Regions from separate parts of the Homo sapiens genome. Here region 2 is linked to region 1. The links come from fine-mapping of genetic effects on gene expression. A gene starts in region 1. The other region holds a variant in brackets. All regions are shown on one strand. Distances are between the middles of the regions.

Region 1 (10,302 bases):
TCAAAATCCTAATCGTGCCATATGTTCTGTGAGAAGCCTTCTCTGACACCATTCTTTTTTTTTTTTTTTTTTTTTTAGACGGAGTCTCGCTCTGTCGCTCAGGCTGGAGTGCAGTGGCGTGATCCCAGCTCACTGCAACCTCCACCTCCCGAGTTCAAGCAATTCTCCTGCCTCAGCCTCCCCAGTAGCTGGGATTACAGGCACCCGCCACCACGCCTAATTTTTGAATTTTTAGTAGAGACGGGGTTTCACCATGTTGGCCAGGCTGGTCAAAACTCACTTGTTGAAGCCGTAACCCCCAGTACCTCAGGATGTCACTACATTTGGAGATAGGGCCTTTAAGGAGGTGATTAATTAAACGAGGCTGTTAGGGTAGATCCTAATCCAAGCTCACCGGTGTCCCTATAAGAAGAGGAGATTAGGACACACGAGACACACCAGGGCATGTGAGCACACAGGAAAGACCACATTAAGGTACCGCAAGAGGAAGGCCATTTGCAAGCCAAGGAGAGAGGCCTCAGGAGAGACCAGCCCTGCCCACACTTTGATCTTAGACTTTCAACCTCCAGAACTGAGAAAATTGAAGTCTTGGGGAAGCCACTCAGTCTGTGGTATTTTGGGATGGCAACCTGGGGCGACTCGGGCTGGGCAGATGCTCCATGCCCTCAGCACAGACTCGCTGAGCTCCACGAATTCCCGGGCACCGTGCTTGGCCCTGAGGATCTAAAGGTAATAAAGCTTGGGTGGCATTAATTATGGCAGAGCTGCAACCGCTCCAAGCCTGAGCCAGGCTGAGCTACTTTCCTTTCTTCTTTCTTTCTGGTTCCCGGTGTACAGTTATGCATCATTTAATGGCAAGGATACGTTCTGGGAAATGCCTTGTTAGGGAAATTTGTCATTGCGCAAACATCACAGAGGGCACAAACACAAACCTACATGGTACAGCCTACTGCACACCTGTGCTGTATGGTACAACCTACTGCGCCTAGGCTACAAACCAGGCTGCATGTGACTGTACTAAATACTGCAGGCAATTGCAACACAATGGCAAGTATTTGTGTCTAAATCTATCTAAACATGGAAAAGACACAGTGAAAATGTGGTATAAAAAATCAGCACCTGACCTGGGCGCTGTGGCTCACACCTGTGATCCCAGCACTTTGGGAGGCTGAGGTGGGTGGATCTCTTGAGGTCGGGAGTTCAAGGCTAGCCTGACCAACACGGAGAAACCCCATCTCTACTAAAAATACAAAAAAAACAGCCGGGTGTGATGGTGCATGCCTGTAATCCCAGCTACTCGGGAGGCTGAGGCAGGTGAATTGCTTGAACCCAGGAGGTGGAGGTTGTGGTGAGCCGAGATCGTGCCATTGCACTCCAGCCTGGGCAACAAGAGTGAAACTCCATCTCAAAAAAGAAAGAAAGAAAGAGAGAGAGAGAGAGAGAGAGAGAGAGAGAGAGACAGAAAGAAAGAAAGAAAGAAAGAAAGAAAGAAAGAAAGAAAGAAAGAAAGAAAGAAAGAAAGAAAGAGAGAAAGAAAGAAATTAGCACCTGAATAAGGCACTTACCATGAATGGAACTTGCAGGATTGTAAGTTGCCTGGGGTGCATCAGTGAGTGAATGTGAAGGTCTAGGACATTGCTGTACGTGACTGCAGACTTTTTTTTTTTTTTTGAGACTGAGTCTCGCTCTGTTGCCCAGGCTGGAGTGCAATGGCACGATCTTGGCTCACTGCAACCTCCGCCTCCCGGGTTCAAGTGATTCTCCTGCCTTAGCCTCCTGAGCAGCTGGGGTTACGGGTGCCCACCACCACGCCTAGCTAATTTTTGTATTTTTAGTGGAGACGGGGTTTCGCCATGTTGGCCAGGCTGGTCTCAAACTCCTGACCTCAAGTCATCCACCCGCCTGGGCCTCCCAAAGTGCTGGGATTACAGTTGTGAGCCATCGTGCCCAGCCCAAAGTAACTTTTGTTTCAAAAACCAATTATCCCTCTGATGCATTGTGGCCATCAAGTTTGGAGTTGTTGGGTTTCTAGGGCTCTAAACCAGAAACACCTCAGACCCAATGAAGACAAAAGCATCTATTATAATGTTTTCCTGTGTGCCCTGGGGCCCCATCCCTGTGCCCAAGACACCAACTTTCTGAGCTTTCTGAGAGCAAGACCTTGTTCATCTTTCTGTACACCAAGGTCTTAGTACAGCATCTAGAACCCTAGAAGAGTGTCTAGAAACTCGTGTGTGTGTGTGTGTGAGTGTACTGAATGAATCAATGAATGAATGTCTGTGTGGAGAAAGCCAGAGGGTATTTCAGACAGGGTCCCAAAGTATGTGTCCCTTGGTCAGATCACCAGATCTTGGGGATCGCAGGAACTGCCCCAGCTTTGTAGGTACAAAAGTCTGATTTATAAATATACCCAAGAGATGGCCACATATGAGTGGACTAGCTTATGGCAACCATACTTACAAGCGTGTACAGAAGAAAGTCAAGTTATAAATTATACCTTTGTAACTACAGGCATATGAAAATGTACTGCTCCCAGCATTCATTGGCCAGATTATTCTGCCTGGCAGCCATCTCTTCATAGGACCCCCCCGTAGGATAATCAGAGGGTTCCAAGAAAGCCTGGACTTTTCCACGTCAAGGGCTCTTTTGCAATGTGACTTTGATACTTCTCCCCTCAAGAGGTAGAATATAATTTTCCTCCCTTTGAATCTAGGTGGGTGCTGTCTGTGTCTTGCGTTGACTTCTGGGCCTAATTCTTCAGAAGCATTGCAATTTCATTTCATCCTTTTGGAGGCTGACCACCATTCAGAGAAGCTCAGCCTAACTACTGAATGTGGACAGTCTACATGGATGGAGAGGCAATGGGAAATGAACCAAAGCACCCCCAGCAGGGCCAGTACCCAGGACCCACACCTGTGAGTGTGAGGTTCCACTCCCATTGAGCCACCCAGCAGCCACTGCAAGGAGCAGAGACAGGCTATTCTTACTAAACACAACCGTGACCAACAAAAGGACTGAAAGTGATTTCAAGCCACAAGCTGCCCATATACAAAATGGATAACAAAAAGAGACTCAAAGCAAGAGGAAGTGGCTGTATTATATTAATTGTTAATATCACTGACTTCTGAAAGTCTGTCGCCTCGATTTCCACTTTCTCTGCTGTCCCGATGGTCAGGCTGCCTCTACTCCAGCAAGTCCAGAGACACTTTTCTGTTTCAGACTCTCTGAACTATCCTTTTGGAGGTACCAGTCACACCAATCCCCTTCAGAAAACACATACATTGTTGTCTTGATTCAATTTTAGGCCCTGCTTAGTTGTAAACTGAAAACCTCATTTAAGCTACTGGCTTGCTTCTAATTTCCTAGTATTTATTGTCTGCCACAAGCCAGACTCTGTCCTAGGAGCTAATGATACAGCAGAGGACCAGATAGACAAATCCCAGGCTCATGAAATTTACATTCCAGTATAACCTCAGATTGAAGAAGTACTAGCTATTGTCTTCATATACCAGGAATAAAAATATGACCCAAAGCATAAGTGCAGAAAGTACACTGGGCCCTAGAAACAACCTAAATAGCATCCAGCCCTCAGAATTTTATATAAGTCGATGACCAAAAGTGATTCCTCCTATAATTTTGAGATAAGTAGTTTGAGATTACCCAACAGATAGATATGCACATAGGGCACCAATAAAATAGAGGAACCAATGTATTTTTGTTTGTGAAATTTGATATATTTTTTAAAAGGATCAAAGCAGTCATCACAGGAAAAAAATCAGTATTTTATTTATTGCACTACACTTTTTAAAAGTAGTTTTAATGAATTAATTTTCTTTTTCTTTTTTTTTTTTTTTTTTTTTTGTAGAGAGTGTCTCACTCTGTCAGCCAGGCTGGAGTAAAGTGGTATGATCATAGCTCACTGCAGCCTCAAACCCCTGGGTTCATGTGATCCTCCTGTCTCAGCCTTCAGAGTAGCTGGGACAACAGGTGTGTGCCACCATGTCCAGCTAATTTTTACTTATTTTTAAATTTTTTAGTATTTTTTGGTAGAGATGAGGTCTCGCTTTGTTGCCAGAGCTGGTTTGTTTGTTTGTTTTTGAGATGGAATCTCCCTCTGTCACCCAGGCTGGAGTGCAATGGTGTGATCTTGGCTCACTGCAACCTCTGTCTCTGGGGTTCAAGTGATTCTCCTGCCTCAACCTCCCCAGTAGCTGGGATTACAGGCCCATGCAACCACTCCCGGCTAATTTTTGTGTTTTTAGTAGAGACGGGGTTTCATCATGTTGGCCAGGCTGGTCTCGAACTCCTGACCTCAGGTGATCCACCTGCCTCGGCCTCCCAAAGTGCTGGGATTACAGGCATAAGCCACCATGCCTGGCCACAGAGCAGGTTTTGAACTACTAGCCTGAAGCTATTCTCCCGCCTTGGCCTCCCAAAGTGCTGGGATTACAGATATGTGCCACGGTGCCCAGGCTTTAAGCAACTTTTAAAAACTATCATTTTTATTTCAAATACTTATGGAGATGGTGGTATGATAATCTTTTCAGTTTGTAACGCCCTCTAACTGTGTAAAGTAGATCTGAAGTGTTTTCCTGACCCTCACTGGGATGGTTATTTCAAGTACAAAACGTTTTCACACCGTGGGTGATAATCTTCCATAAAAAATTTCATATTTGAATGAAAACAGCTCAAGAAATACACTAATGAGCAAAAATATATGGGGAAAGAGGAACGTGTAGTTTTGACTTAACTGAAGAAACCAAGAGGAAACTGGTCTCCATATGAAAATGTGATCCTGGAAAGTCAGGTGTCAAGATTTTCGAGTAGGAATCTACATGACTTGAATCTCCCTTACTTCCTGAATAAAAGTGACATCTTTCAGTATTTATTTAAAAAAATCATATGTCAGTGGAGCTTCCAGGTAAATTATCTTTAAAAAATCATATTTGAGTGGAGCTTCCAGGTAAATTATCTTCCTCTTTTAAGGGAGCTCCCTGTATTTCTAGCGGCTTTAACTGATATCCCTTTCAGTGAGAAATCCTCATTAGCTACATAAGAGGGGACTGGGTGTTTTTTTCAAAAAGCTGGTATTGGGACATCTACCTCTGTGATGTCCCTGGTCAGCTATATTGTCTAGGAGTTGAAACATTTTGTATTAATTTTCTATCATTTACTGGGTGCCTCTTCTGTGACAGTGCCACTCAAAGGTCTATTGATATATTATCAGGTGACTGAATTCTATATTCTGAAGTAGGAGATACTGTTATTGCTGTTATTACATTTTACACATAAGAAAGCTGAGGCTCTGAGAGGTCAAGATCACGCAGCTAACAAATGAGCCAAGACTCTTGCTTTAGAGCTTGTCCTCTATTCTTGCTTTTCTTTCCAAAAAACACTACAATTTTTGTTTTGTTTTGTTTTGTTTTGAGACAGGGTCTCGAGGTGTCACCCAGGCTGGAGTGCAGTGGCGCGATTTCGACTCACCGCAACCTCCGCCTCCGCGCTTAAGCGATTCTCCTGCCTCAGCCTCCCAAGTAGCTGGGACTACAAGCTCGGGACACCACGTAAAAATGATCAAGTTCTAACATGTATGCATACGAATTACAATGGAAATAAAATTAGCAAAGCGCTTATGCTAATGCTCAATACAATTGATTTCCTCACATTTAATCCTCACAACCACTACAACCACCTCTAACTCAAGCTCTGAGGGACTGACGTGCCCGGAGGACACAGCTCTTATCTGGTGAGAACAGGAGCGTTTTAGCGAAACTCCAAACTCCTAGGTCCCGCCTTCCCCAGGAAGGCTTTTCCTGGCACTGTGCTTCCGGAAGTCCCGCCCCAGGAGAAAAACAGCTTCCGGAAAAAATTGCGGCCGGCAAACCGGAACAGAACTAGGGGCGGGGCCGCTTGAGACGCTCTAGTATTCCTCTACTCTATGGCCACTGTCAATTGACAAGTCCCGAGCGGTAAAGCTCCTTTCTATTGGATGAGCAGCCTCGCGTAGGCGGGAAGCTCGGTGCACGGCGCGCTGATTGGCTGGATCCGCCATGCGGAGCGGCTAGGTGGTGCACGGGAAACGCGGGCGTAGGTGACCGGCGGCTTTCTCAGTTTTGGTGGAGACGGGCGCATGTGGGCGCTTTGCTCGCTGCTGCGGTCCGCGGCCGGACGCACCATGTCGCAGGGACGCACCATATCGCAGGCACCCGCCCGCCGCGAGCGGCCGCGCAAGGACCCGCTGCGGCACCTGCGCACGCGAGAGAAGCGCGGACCGTCGGGGTGCTCCGGCGGCCCAAACACCGTGTACCTGCAGGTGGTGGCAGCGGGTAGCCGGGACTCGGGCGCCGCGCTCTACGTCTTCTCCGAGTTCAACCGGTCAGTCAACGAGCCACGCCCCGTCCCGCTGGGCCCTCAGTGCGGCGCAGCCTCTGAGCATCGGGGCACCTCCCAGGGCTTCGGCTTCCCTGCTTCACACATGTGGTTCACTGTTGCGGGGGTTCGTGGAGTTATGGTGGGTGGGAAATCCGAGATTCTTTGCATCCATGTGATTTCTGCGGATCTGTGAAGAACTTCAGGCCTGGGTCTGAGCGTCCTTTTCCCAACCCTTGGGCCCCGGCCTGGCTGTCAGCACTTTCGGAGCTCCACCCTCTTCCGTGCACCCCAAGGCCAGTGTGTCGTTGTTAGCGTGTGGGGTGGACAGATCTGGTGTGTAGCCGGTGGTGGAGAAAGGACTCATTTTGTCCTAGCACCCACACACACAGGCCCCCACTCCTCTCCACCTCTGCTAAGGAGGGCTCAAAACCCACCAGCATAAATGTGGCTCGGTAGTCCAACGTGGACTTTTAATTTTTTTTTCTTTTTTTTTTTTCCAGAGTCTACAATAAAACATCTAATTGGTGTCAGAGAGTTTACAGAATAAAACCTTCTGAATGTCTTGTGTAATGTTTGTCTTGTAGGTATCTCTTCAACTGTGGAGAAGGCGTTCAGAGACTCATGCAGGAGCACAAGTGAGTCAGTCTCTTGCTTTCGGAGGGGGAGTTGATTACGGGGCTTGAAAGCCGAAATGAGAGGCCAGTTGTTTTTTATAGCAAAAGTGGTCCTTGTTCTGTTCATGTTATCCTGTTTAAATGTTTTTTCATTCTTAGGTTAAAGGTTGCTCGCCTGGACAACATATTCCTGACACGAATGCACTGGTCTAATGTTGGGGGCTTAAGTGGTGAGTATATTCTTTGCAGTGTCAGAGGCTGGTGGGAAGTCTCTGGGATTTTAACCGGCTTTACCATTTTTCCAAGTCTGGGGTGGGCAGCTACTTTTTTTTTTTTTTTTTTTTTTGTCAGTGGCGTGATCTTGGCTCACTGCAACCTTTGCCTTCTGGGCTCAGGTGATCCCCTCACCTCAGCCTCCCAAATAGCTGGGACCACACGTGTGCCCCATCACACCTGGCTAATTTTTTTTGTATGTTTTGTAGCGACGGGGTTTTGCTATGTTGCCCAGGCTGGTCTCAAACTTCTGCGATCCTCCTGTCTCGGCCTCCCAGAGTGCTGGGATTACAGGCATGAGCCACCGCACCTGGCCTGGAATTCTTTTTATACCAGCCCAGTCAGCAGCAGCACAGAGCATTAAAAGCTGTGACTCAGGAGAACAGATTTTAATATGGATACCACCTCTTAAGTGTTACCATCCACTTAGTTTCTTGCGTTGCGGGGACAGAGATTTGTGGCAGTAAACTGGAGAGTCTAGCAGTGGTGATTACAGTTAATATGTTTACCGCAGACGCCATTGGCACATTGGCAGCCACACACATACCCACTGTCCAGATTACCCTGTCATTTATGTCTATCAACCGGAAGGTCAGGATTGTGTTGCAGCCAAATTGTGTGGGCTTGGTGGCATGGACCGGAAGGAGTGAAGTGTTAGACCAGTCTCCCTTCTCAGGGCTGAGACTAGGGTGAGGCACTTAGGGTGCCAGCCCTTCACTTGCATGATTCCTTACATTTTGCACACTGGGTGCCTTGCTGCTTCACCCTAGTGACAGCTCAGCCCATTCTAGAGGCATTTAAAGAATATTTGGTGTCTGTTACACCTCTAGCTGGCATCACTTCTGCTCTGTACATCTTCCCTGGTTGTACTTCCAAAGCTGGAAGGTGGAGATGTAGATAAATAGTTGGATTAGTACGGGGTGCTCCTCCTGTTAGTGACGACAGGTCAAATTGATGAGAGATCTGATTTTATGCATCCTTTTTAGGAATGATTCTTACTTTAAAGGAAACCGGGCTTCCAAAGTGTGTACTTTCTGGACCTCCACAACTGGTGAGTCTTTCCTGACACATCTTTCAAAAGCAATCTTTCCTTTTGTAATATCAGTAACAAGAATTTTCCTTTTTGCAAATCAGTCTTCTGCCCTCCAGAGATACCTGGTCGTTGAAACGCTTCCCCTTTCAAGTTAAAAAGACTTGAGTTCTGATTAACTATGTGACCTTGATCAAGTTACTTTACCTTTCTGAGCTTTAGTTTATTCATCTATAAGATGACTATCACGTTTCATAGAGTTGTTAAAGATTAAATGACGTAGCAGCACATATAAAGCACTAAATCACTTTATTAGATATATGTTTGGCACCAAGTAGGCACACAAGAAAGGGCAGCTTTTGTTTTTATTCAATAAATTTCTGACATCTTCTTACCTTTCAGTCCAGCTTATTACACTCTTGAGAAGGCGTGTGTGTGTTGTTGAATATAACAGTTCATTTTCCAGTCCTTAAGAAGAAAGTCACCAAGACCTGTTAAGTCTTTCCCCAAAATAACGTTTGAAATCCATCCATTTGTCTCTTATTGAGGCCTTCCTTATTTCTGTTTTCTATGCCTGTAAACTACAATAGCCTCCCATATTCATTCTCGCCTTCCTGTAATCCATCTGCCACACAGCAGCCAGAGAGGTCACTTCAAGACAGAAAAGTAGTGTGTCACTTGCCACCCTAAAGCCCTTCATGGGCTCCCCATTGCAATACAATCAAAACACCTTGATATGGCCTACAAGTCCTGTAGGCCCCGGCCGCTACCCACACTTCCATCTGTACCCATCGCTGAACTGCAGCTGCATGGGCTGACTCTTATGTCCCTCTAACTCCCTGGCCACTTCAGGACTTTCGCCCTTCCGCGGGTTCCCTCTGCCTCTTCTAATTGCTGCCTATATTGTTACTGAACCTTCAGGGCTCAGCTAGAGGGTCATTTACTCCAGAACTGCCTCTTCTTCTCTAGACAAGTTGGATCCCAGCCTTCTGTATTTTTCATTTTCCTTGCAGAGCACTTAGCATAATGCCACTAAGCTGTTTCTGTTATCGTGTTTCCTTTTGTCTCCTCCACTGGCCTGATTAGAGCAAGGCCTCCATCTCTTTTTCCTGCTATATCCTTGGCATCTGATATAATGGATACTCAGTAAATATTTGTAATAAATGATGTTCAAAATATTTACTAAGCTTTGTTTTATGTTGATACCTATTGGTAACCTTTTAAATACTTGAATAGTTGCTGTGTTCTACATTTGTTCAACCATAACTGCTCATTTCTTTGTTTTTCATTAGGAAAAATACCTCGAAGCAATCAAAATATTTTCTGGTCCATTGAAAGGAATAGAACTGGGTACGTCTTTGTCTGTGACTCATCCTCTGCTATTTCTAACTTATATATGCCCTGACCTCTCAAATTAGAATCCATTAAAAACATCAACATCAAACCTCAAAATCAAATGCTTCATCACCACGAGATTTTTTTTTTTTTTTTTTTTTTTGGATAGAGTCTTGCTTTCTTACCAGGCTGGAGTGCAGTGGCATGATCTCGGCTCACTGCAACCTCCACCTCCTGGGTTCAAGCCATTCTCCCACCTCAGCCTCCTGAGTAGCTAGGACTACAGGCGCATGCCATCACGCTCAGCTAATTTTTTGTATTTTTAGTAGAGACGGGGTTTCACCATGTTGGCCAGGATAGTCTCGATCTCTTGACCTTGTGATCTGCCCGCCTCAGCCTCCCAAAATGAGCTACCATGTGGCTGGAGATGGGATTTCTAAATAGTGACATTTTCTGTGTTCCCACCTCATGCTGTAAAAATAGGGGCCAGGTCGGCAGGAGTGATTGAACAGCTGATGCCTGCCTGTGTACATGCTGTGTGGCATTCTCCATCCAGACGGCAGGGCTCCTGCCTCAGTTCCAGAGGTGCTTCTCGTCGTTGAGTTGCTTTGAGTTGGGGGCGGGGGTGACAAGGGTTCCCTAGAGGTTTTGTGGCCAACTTTGTACATTGAAACGCAG
Region 2 (8,762 bases), 25 kb after region 1:
CATGTACACGTTATCTCTACAGATAGTATGTGAAGAAAATAAGATTGTGAATTACCAGGTTTGTTTTAAATTTTGCTCTGCCATCTTACATGCTAGTGGTGGATGATAAACAACCAAATAGTGCATTAAATATATACAGCAGTGACGAGATGTGCCCTGACATCAGAAATATACAATCTGGGGTGTGTTTCTCTGTGGATGAGGACATGCAATAAAGCAGCTTGGAGTGAGCCGGCCTCTCCCGGGGGCTGAGATCCTGGGGGAAGAAGGGCTTTTTGAGTTTGACCTGACACCCTGCGAGCAGCTTTTGAACCAGCTGAAGCTAATGGGAAGGTGCTATTGCCACCTTGCCTCCGCCTCCCGACTCCTTTTTCCCCCAGAAGGTAATGTCTTAGCACCGGGGCTTCTCTCTGCAAAATGGGTGCAGCCCTCTCAGTGTTCGTGGCTCCTCCCAGAGAATGAAGGAGGCCAGAGCGGGTCAGCACTCTCTCTGCCTTGGAGCAGAGCTTCTGAAATGGACTGCACAGCAGAATAGCCCAAGAAGTTTGTCAGAATCCAGACTTCCAGAGCCCTGCCTAAAACCAAGTCAGAAACCCCGAGTGACACCTGGGAGTCTGCGTTAACTGGCTCCCTGAATGAAGCACCTGCAGCCCGCCCTGCACCAGGTGTCTTTGAGGACATGAGCTGAGGAAACCCCGACCACTTGCAAAGGGGGAAAAGTCCGATGGCAGCTGGACCTAGAAAGAGTCTCATATGGCCCAGTGCCTGTCCTGGTATTTTCAACAGAGGCTGTGGCCACAGTCAATCTGCATGGTCAGATTCATTGTTAGGACTAAATGCTTTAAGCCTCCTATAAACTTTTTTTTTTTTTTTTTGATGCCCAGCCTTTGTGTAAGTCTACTTGAAAGGGTTTCAGGGTTCCATGGATACTTCTTTGCTATAAAGAGGATGACACATGTAAAATCACCTTTATGGTTAAATTAATTGGCTTTTATATTAGCTCCTCAAAGCAAAGCAGGAGAGACAGAAATTTCTGCAGTTGCTTCTTGGTCCTGTCCAAAGCAGACATCAGCCTCTGAACCATCAGCAGTCTTCCTAGTGGCAGTGACTCTCTTCCTCTTCTCTTCTGCAGCCCCGACACGTCTCTGCTACTGGACTGTGGTGAGGGCACATTTGGGCAGCTGTGCCGTCATTACGGAGACCAGGTGGACAGGGTCCTGGGCACCCTGGCTGCTGTGTTTGTGTCCCACCTGCACGCAGATCACCACACGGTGAGTGTTGGGCTGGACCACAAAGCTGGAGCCTGGAGGAGGCACTGCCACGTTGAGTTGGCCCTTTGGCTGCGTCTTTTCCTCCGCTTCCAAACTTGCCCAGAGCTTTTGTTACTCATCTCTGGCTAGGAAATGGTTTTTTGCAAAACTCAACATAGTCCTTCTGCGCCACAAGAATGTCTTCTCTTCCTGTTCAGTTCCTTTCCTGCAGCAGGACAGGTTTGAGTTTACCCAGCCTTCCTTGAGTCTTGAATCTCACACGGCCTGCTCAGCGGAAGCTTTGACCGGATGCAGGAGGTGTGGCTATGAGACCCTCACCTTGGTCTCCTGGGGTGCCGGGCCCTGGGCCGTTGCCCTCTTCCCAGCACGGGTCGTGTCGCTTTCTGCCTGTGACATTTCAGGGCCATGGCGCAGGGGGCTCGGCCTGTGCCACCCCCACTGCGGCTGTGTTAGAGGCTGGTGGGTGACGTCGGGCTGGCAACTCCTGCAAGAGAGAGGGCTGCAGACCCTAACCCGGAGGGGATGGCCCTGGGGCCTGGCTGACGCATGTCTCCTGTTTCCTTGCCAGGGCTTGCCAAGTATCTTGCTGCAGAGAGAACGCGCCTTGGTAAGTGTGGCACTTGATGGGCGTTCTGAGTTTCAGCGGTTTACACATCATCCGCCATGCCTCTTGGCACTCCAGTTTTTATTGAGATGTTCTGTCGTCGAGTCGGCACTTGCATTTTTTGTTCCAGGCATCTTTGGGAAAGCCGCTTCACCCTTTGCTGGTGGTTGCCCCCAACCAGCTCAAAGCCTGGCTCCAGCAGTACCACAACCAGTGCCAGGAGGTCCTGCACCACATCAGGTGAGCATCCAGGGCAGCCTGGCCCGCTGGGCTGTTGCTTGCTGCCGTCTCCTTCAGAAGCTCAAGGTGGACACTGGGGTAGTTACCAATATCCCCCAGCAGCCTTGCCCTTGACATGGTCCCAGATGGCAGAAGCAGGGGAGAAGTGCATTGGCTGAAGGACAGAAACCATTAGATAGTTCCCATGTAATGCTTATTTTCTTAGAAGCATTTCTTCCCAGTCCTCATTTGAGTTCTGAGCTGCTTTCTAAACTTCGAGCAGCTTTTCTTGATGAGACAGTTCCAGAGCCAAGCACCCAAATAGTGGCTAGCACAGAGAATGTCCATAGCAGGTGTGTGGCTAGCTGGCAGGTGGCACCATCCTCACCCCAAGGGGAAGGAGTCCCCTCTGCTGGAGCCATCCGTGGCCCGTGCTGCCTGAGCCGGAGGCAGCATTCACCTGCTGGGTTTCTCCCAGTGGCCTAGAGGCTTTGGTTTGGCTCTTTATATTTGACTGCTGTTTCCTCATCATAGTGACTATGATTTAACTCATGTTTTCTCCTAAGAATGATTTTGGGGTTCTCCAGCCAAAGACTTAAACTTTGGTTCCAGATGTCCAAGAAACGTTTATTATCATTTTAAATGTTTTGTCTTTTTACAGTATGATTCCTGCCAAATGCCTTCAGGAAGGGGCTGAGATCTCCAGTCCTGCAGTGGAAAGATTGATCAGTTCGCTGTTGCGAACATGTGATTTGGAAGAGGTAAGGGGCACAGCCGCAGGCATCATGGGGGCGAGGTGGGGAGCAGAGCTGCAGAGCCCTCCAGCCCCACCCTTTCAGTTTCAGACCTGTCTGGTGCGGCACTGCAAGCATGCGTTTGGCTGTGCGCTGGTGCACACCTCTGGCTGGAAAGTGGTCTATTCCGGGGACACCATGCCCTGCGAGGCTCTGGTCCGGATGGGTGAGTAGAGGAAGAAGCAAGCCACCCTGAGGTTGCTCTGGGGTTTGTGTAGCTGGAGGTGAATGCAGGTGGGCTTGCAGGGAAACGTCAGCAGAGGCAGGAGACTCAGGTCCCCACCCTCAGAGTCTCTGGTTGTCATCCTAGTAGGCAGACCCAGGGCCAGGGGAGCTGAGTGTTGAGACCAGGAAACAGCACGTGACTGAGGCCTGTGTGCCGCTCTCGCAGAGAACTCTGCCCTGATCCTTGTGCTGCTTCTCCAGGGAAAGATGCCACCCTCCTGATACATGAAGCCACCCTGGAAGATGGTTTGGAAGAGGAAGCAGTGGAAAAGACACACAGGTAGCAAAGGCCGGTCAGTCCTTGTCGCCCACATCCTCTCCCTCCCCCACTACGTGACACTGAGCAGCCGTCGTTTGTCTCCACTGATGTGGGGCTGCCCTGCTTCCTATCAAGGGCTATGGGGGCTTCCTTGACCTGTGGCAGTGCTCACAGGCTCTTGGCCTTTATTTTTGCAGAATTTTCTAAGCAAGATTCTAGAGTGAGGCACAGTTTTTTGAAAGCATCTAGAAATCGGCTGAATAAACTATAAGCCATGTCAGGGAATTGCCAGGGGAAGGCGGGGGCTGGGGGACTGAATTTTTGGCTGCTAATTTCAACGAAAGAGTGCATTACCCCAGGTGGGCCCTGTGGTTTCTCTTGGGTGCCCTCATGGACAGATTTGGCAGCCAGCACAGAGGGTGGGCTTCATCCAGGGGTGTGTGCGAAGGCTCTGGCCCTCAGGGGAGATTGTGCTGGCTACGGAGGTGCCCGTTAAGAAAACCCACCAGCTTCCCCGGGTGCCCTGGCAGTTGATGGCCAGGGTCTGTGCCACTGTCTGCTTTGCAGTCTTGCAGTTGAGTTCAGCTTCAGTCTGCTCTGTCCTTCACCTGCAGCACAACGTCCCAAGCCATCAGCGTGGGGATGCGGATGAACGCGGAGTTCATTATGCTGAACCACTTCAGCCAGCGCTATGCCAAGGTCCCCCTCTTCAGCCCCAACTTCAGCGAGAAAGTGGGAGTTGCCTTTGACCACATGAAGGTCTGTATGTCACACGGACAGCACAGGGCGGGGACGGGGCAGGGAGACAGGACTCTACACACTGAGTAGGACGGTCAGCTGGAGTTTGCTTTCTTATTTGGGGCCACCGTGGGAAAAGGTTATCTACCCATCACTAACCAGGTCGAACCACCCTGGGTTTGCTGGTGAGACCCACCTCCTGCAGGGGCCAACTAGTCTTCAGTCTCAGTTCACTGGAAATTTCTGAGAATCCTTTTAGGCCTGGACTGCTCACACAGTCATGGCATTTGAGCCTCAGCACAGACCTGTGAGACAGGTGGTTGCCTCTTGTGAGTGGGAAAGCCAGGCCTGACCCTTGGCCTTCCGGAATGAAGGGGCAGAGCCGGAGCCAGGCCTCGTTTTTCAGGAGCTTGATTTTGAGAGCATCTGGACTGCTCTCCCTTCCCTCTCCGGAGGCCCTTAGCCAGGCCTGGGGAGCCTCTGCCCCTTTAGAGGGTTCCCTCCATGCCATTCTTTTTTCCATTTCAGCTGTGGCCTGTTGGCTTGTGCCAAGGAAGGGGCGTTGGCGCTGCTGTGTGAGCACATGACTGCATCCCTTCCAGCTCCTGTCCCCCACCCCTGCCCCTCTGAGACATGTCCTTGTCTTCTATTGTGTCTTCTAGGTCTGCTTTGGAGACTTTCCAACAATGCCCAAGCTGATTCCCCCACTGAAAGCCCTGTTTGCTGGCGACATCGAGGAGATGGAGGAGCGCAGGGAGAAGCGGGAGCTGCGGCAGGTGCGGGCGGCCCTCCTGTCCAGGGAGCTGGCAGGCGGCCTGGAGGATGGGGAGCCTCAGCAGAAGCGGGCCCACACAGAGGAGCCACAGGCCAAGAAGGTCAGAGCCCAGTGAAGATCTGGGAGACCCTGAACTCAGAAGGCTGTGTGTCTTCTGCCCCACGCACGCACCCGT[A/G]TCTGCCCTCCTTGCTGGTAGAAGCTGAAGAGCACGGTCCCCCAGGAGGCAGCTCAGGATAGGTGGTATGGAGCTGTGCCGAGGCTTGGGCTCCCACATAAGCACTAGTCTATAGATGCCTCTTAGGACTGGTGCCTGGCACAGCCGCGGGCCAGGAGGCTGCCACACGGAAGCAAGCAGATGAACTAATTTCATTTCAAGGCAGTTTTTAAAGAAGTCTTGGAAACAGACGGCGGCACCTTTCCTCTAATCCAGCAAAGTGATTCCCTGCACACCAGAGACAAGCAGAGTAACAGGATCAGTGGGTCTAAGTGTCCGAGACTTAACGAAAATAGTATTTCAGCTGCAATAAAGATTGAGTTTGCAATTGTGAGTTCTTTTGCTTCCTCCTGCTGCTGCTACAGAGCAGGGTCTGCTGTGCACCACCTTGGAGAAGGCTCTCTGTGCTGTAGTGTGGCAGCTGCCTGGTACCCGGGTGGCTTGGAAGAAGTCAGCTCCCGTCGTAGTGAGCACCTCTGGAACCTGTCCTCAGAGAGCCACCCTTATTCGCCAAGTCTTTTTGACAACTCGAGCTGTGCCAGCTCACAGCAGGGCGTGCTTTCTCTATCAATCAATCAATCAATCAATCAAATCAATCAGTGAGAGCCTGGCTGGGCTGGTGTCATTGGTCAGGGAAATGCAAGTCTTCTGGTGGTTCTGGGTAAAAGTGGAGACAATAGATTTGCTGTGTTGTTGCTTCCATACTGAGAGGAGTGAGGATCACTTTGCCCTCGAAGGTTTTGAGAAATGGCACACGGGGCTGGTTTCCATTGTCCTCCTTGCGGGATTTACAGACGTGGATTAGTGCTCGACAAATGGAGAGCATTTTCCAAGGAAGTAAGTAAGTAAAGTAAGTAAGTAAGTAAGTAAGTTGAATCTAGTATTTATTGTGTATATTCCCTACCCAGGAGAATGTAAAAAGAAGAGCTTTAAAAACTCAAAAGACAAGCAAGCGAGAGATCAGCCAGGGACCTGGCTTTACACAGGTGGTGACCTTCAGGCTCCATCCCGGTGTGCATTTGAGATTGACGGCCATGTCCCCGCAGGTTTATTAAAGCAAGAACAGATGCCAAGCTCAGGGATAATAAATCTATTTTAATAACGTTACTTTTGACAACGATTTGTACATGTATTTAAAGATAACAACTTTCAACCCCCACCCTTACCCCAGACTCCCATTACAAATTGAGGCATGACCTGCCCTTGCCAGGAAGTGAGCAAAGCTGCAACATCAAAACTCTGCACATCCCACTCTCAGAGGAGGGTGACTTTACACTGTGTTGGGAAAAATAACTAAGCATTTAAATTTTTCATTGTACACCTGTACATTGGTTTAGATTGAATGGCTCAAATTAAACAAATATAGAGAGATTTCATATATACAAATATTATATCATGTATAGGTATATTATATCATCTATTTGAAAAGGATAAAATTTTAAACTTTGACTTTGCATGCATGGCCCAAATCTTTTCTCACTCCCCTAATCCCCAAGTGTGAAAAGGCTACCCGGTGCCCTCCCGGCCCTCGTCCCCATGACCAGATGGGACTTCATGAGAAGGAAATGAGCGGCTGACGCTGGTGAGCAAAGCAGGCCACACCGCAGGCCGAGCCCGTGGGCCAGCGTCTCCGTGGCTGGTTTCACTTTTCCTCCACATGCTTTGGGTAACGTAATTATTGCTATTCAGTTTGAACCTCCAGAAAGAAGAGACAGGCTCCAGGACCCCACAGACTAGTGAACTGGGTGCCTTTAGGTACGTAGAGGGGTAAAATTACTCTCATATAGCCAATATATTTGGGGACAGGGAGGCCACCTTTGGCTCCTCCAGACACTGTCAGGCTTGTTTGTTTTGTTTTATAGATTCAGAAATATAAAATGATATAGGAGCTTTCAGTCACACAGTGGAAAAAGGAAAACTGTTAGGAAGTGAAACATTTTTGTTTTCAGCCATTTACTTTGGAGCCCACTGATGGGGGCGGCCTGAAAGGTTTTCCAGTGGCAAGCCCTCCCCCAGGTAGCTGGCAAAGGTCAGTGCCCCAGGACTGCTAGAATCCTGGACCTGGTCCAGTTGTGGGTGAGAGGGGCCCTGCTGTCCTGCTTCCTTTCTGTGGCCATTAAACTGATCCTGCAAGACCTGACATGAGCCGTCCAAGGAAAAGGTAGCAGCCCTTGGGTCTAACCAGGCAAAGTGAGCCTCTCCCGCACCACCCCGACCCTGCAAAGGACGTTCCTGACCAGCCTTGGATGGAGAGGTGGGTGTTTTCTGGCATGGAGGCTGAAAGTGGATCAAAAGAGGCACAAAGTCAAAAGGCAAAGGTCAAACAAAAGGCCGAAGTCACCACCCGAAAGGAACAAACAAAACCTGCACCACCAGCATCACCACACGGACTGGAGATCACAATTTTCTGCCAAATTCCAACCTCGTGTTGGCAGTGGCAGGAAAGAGCCAGCAGAGAACACTTGGCAAGCTCATGGACGCTGCTCCTGGCGGCGTTCCTAGGGCCCGTGATGTATGTACACGCGAGGCAGGATGGGCGGTGTCATGTCAGAGGGCGGTGCTCTCAGACTCCTCCTCCGAGTCCCTCTTGTCAGTTACTGAGTGTCGCCGCATGTGCTCCAGGGGACTCAGGCGGAGCGTCGACCCGAGCTCTATGTGGATCGAGGGAATATCAAAGTGGACAAGATCTGGAAGGCGGCAGAGAGAGAGGTGGTTGAAAGGAGGCTTCCCGGCAAATGAGAACCTAGTTGTAGGCAAATAATGTCAGCCTTAGGAGGCAGGGGTGCTGCTATTCTAGGGATAGATCATTTGGAGGTTGGTTTAAGCATTGTGTTGCACAGTCGATCAGGTTGTGCTCATGCCTGCTTTGCTTCTACCCCATAAGTTCGTAGAACCAAAGCACCCAGGATACGCCACTGTGGTTCAGAGGAAGGCCAGAACAGCACTCCCCTGCCAAGCCACAGGGTCCTTTATTCTTGATAAGAAGGATGCTGAGTAGGTCTCAATGACACCTTTTTGGGGATCTATATCAGACGACTGCATTTCATTCCCCAGAATCTGCAGGGACAGGACGTGAGACAGTGGACCCCTTTCTCCTCTCAAGCCTGTGAGAGAATGGGGAACCCTGAGCCAGTGTCCTCACTCTAAGAAACAGCTGCATTTTGGATGGCTGACATGGGTGGAGTAGAAGGTCTCCCTCAGGACCCTGGTTGTCATTGGTGCCAACTGTCCCTGACTGCAGGACAACCCCCACCTCTGGTTACATCCTTATTTATTAGGAGCATTAAAAGGTCATTTTTCCCGGCAAGATGAACAGGAGAAATGTACTTGAAATAACAGCTCAGTGTCTGGACGTCTCTGAGTCGGCAAAGACGACAGAAGTCCTTAGACTGGCAGCTGAGTGGACACGAAGCCTCTTTGCCACACCACGTTAAAAAAAATCCCCTTGCTGCTGCAGCCGCCGCCCTGGGGGACACTGACGAGGCTGTGCTTGCTGACTCCTCCAGGATGTGCTACAGCCAGAGAGCCAGAAAACCACAGATCCCCTGGGTCCTTTACTCTCGTCATGCTGTCCCCTTCCTCCGCCTGCTTAGTTTTTTTTTTTTTTTTTTTTTTTTGGGGGGGGTGGAGTTTCGCTCTTGTCACACAGACTGGAGTGCAATG

Evidence for each region. PIP is the estimated chance that this variant, and not a neighbour inherited with it, causes the effect.
Region 2: its variant is fine-mapped to the expression of ELAC2 in whole blood (INTERVAL, PIP 0.97). The same link has a PIP of 0.9 or more in iPS cells.

Annotation. Positions count from the first base shown.
Region 1 is chr17:13,013,776-13,024,077 of GRCh38, reverse strand. It overlaps ELAC2 (elaC ribonuclease Z 2), which reads left to right and starts at 6,051. Exons shown (of 24, transcript NM_018127.7): 1 at 6,051-6,375; 2 at 6,957-7,007; 3 at 7,146-7,216; 4 at 8,246-8,310; 5 at 9,582-9,639. The coding sequence starts at 6,131. RefSeq lists a silencer at 5,934-6,013 and enhancers at 6,534-6,593, 6,614-6,723, 6,235-6,735.
Region 2 is chr17:12,989,056-12,997,817 of GRCh38, reverse strand. It overlaps ARHGAP44 (Rho GTPase activating protein 44), which reads right to left. Exons shown (of 21, transcript NM_014859.6): 21 at 6,175-7,786. The coding sequence ends at 7,647. It overlaps ELAC2 (elaC ribonuclease Z 2), which reads left to right. Exons shown (of 24, transcript NM_018127.7): 17 at 1,133-1,271; 18 at 1,840-1,878; 19 at 2,006-2,115; 20 at 2,756-2,855; 21 at 2,934-3,054; 22 at 3,315-3,393; 23 at 3,987-4,131; 24 at 4,773-6,206. The coding sequence ends at 5,000. Among named protein-coding and RNA genes, the nearest start is that of ELAC2, 25 kb to the left of the region's middle. The variant A/G (reference allele first, on the strand shown) is at 5,061.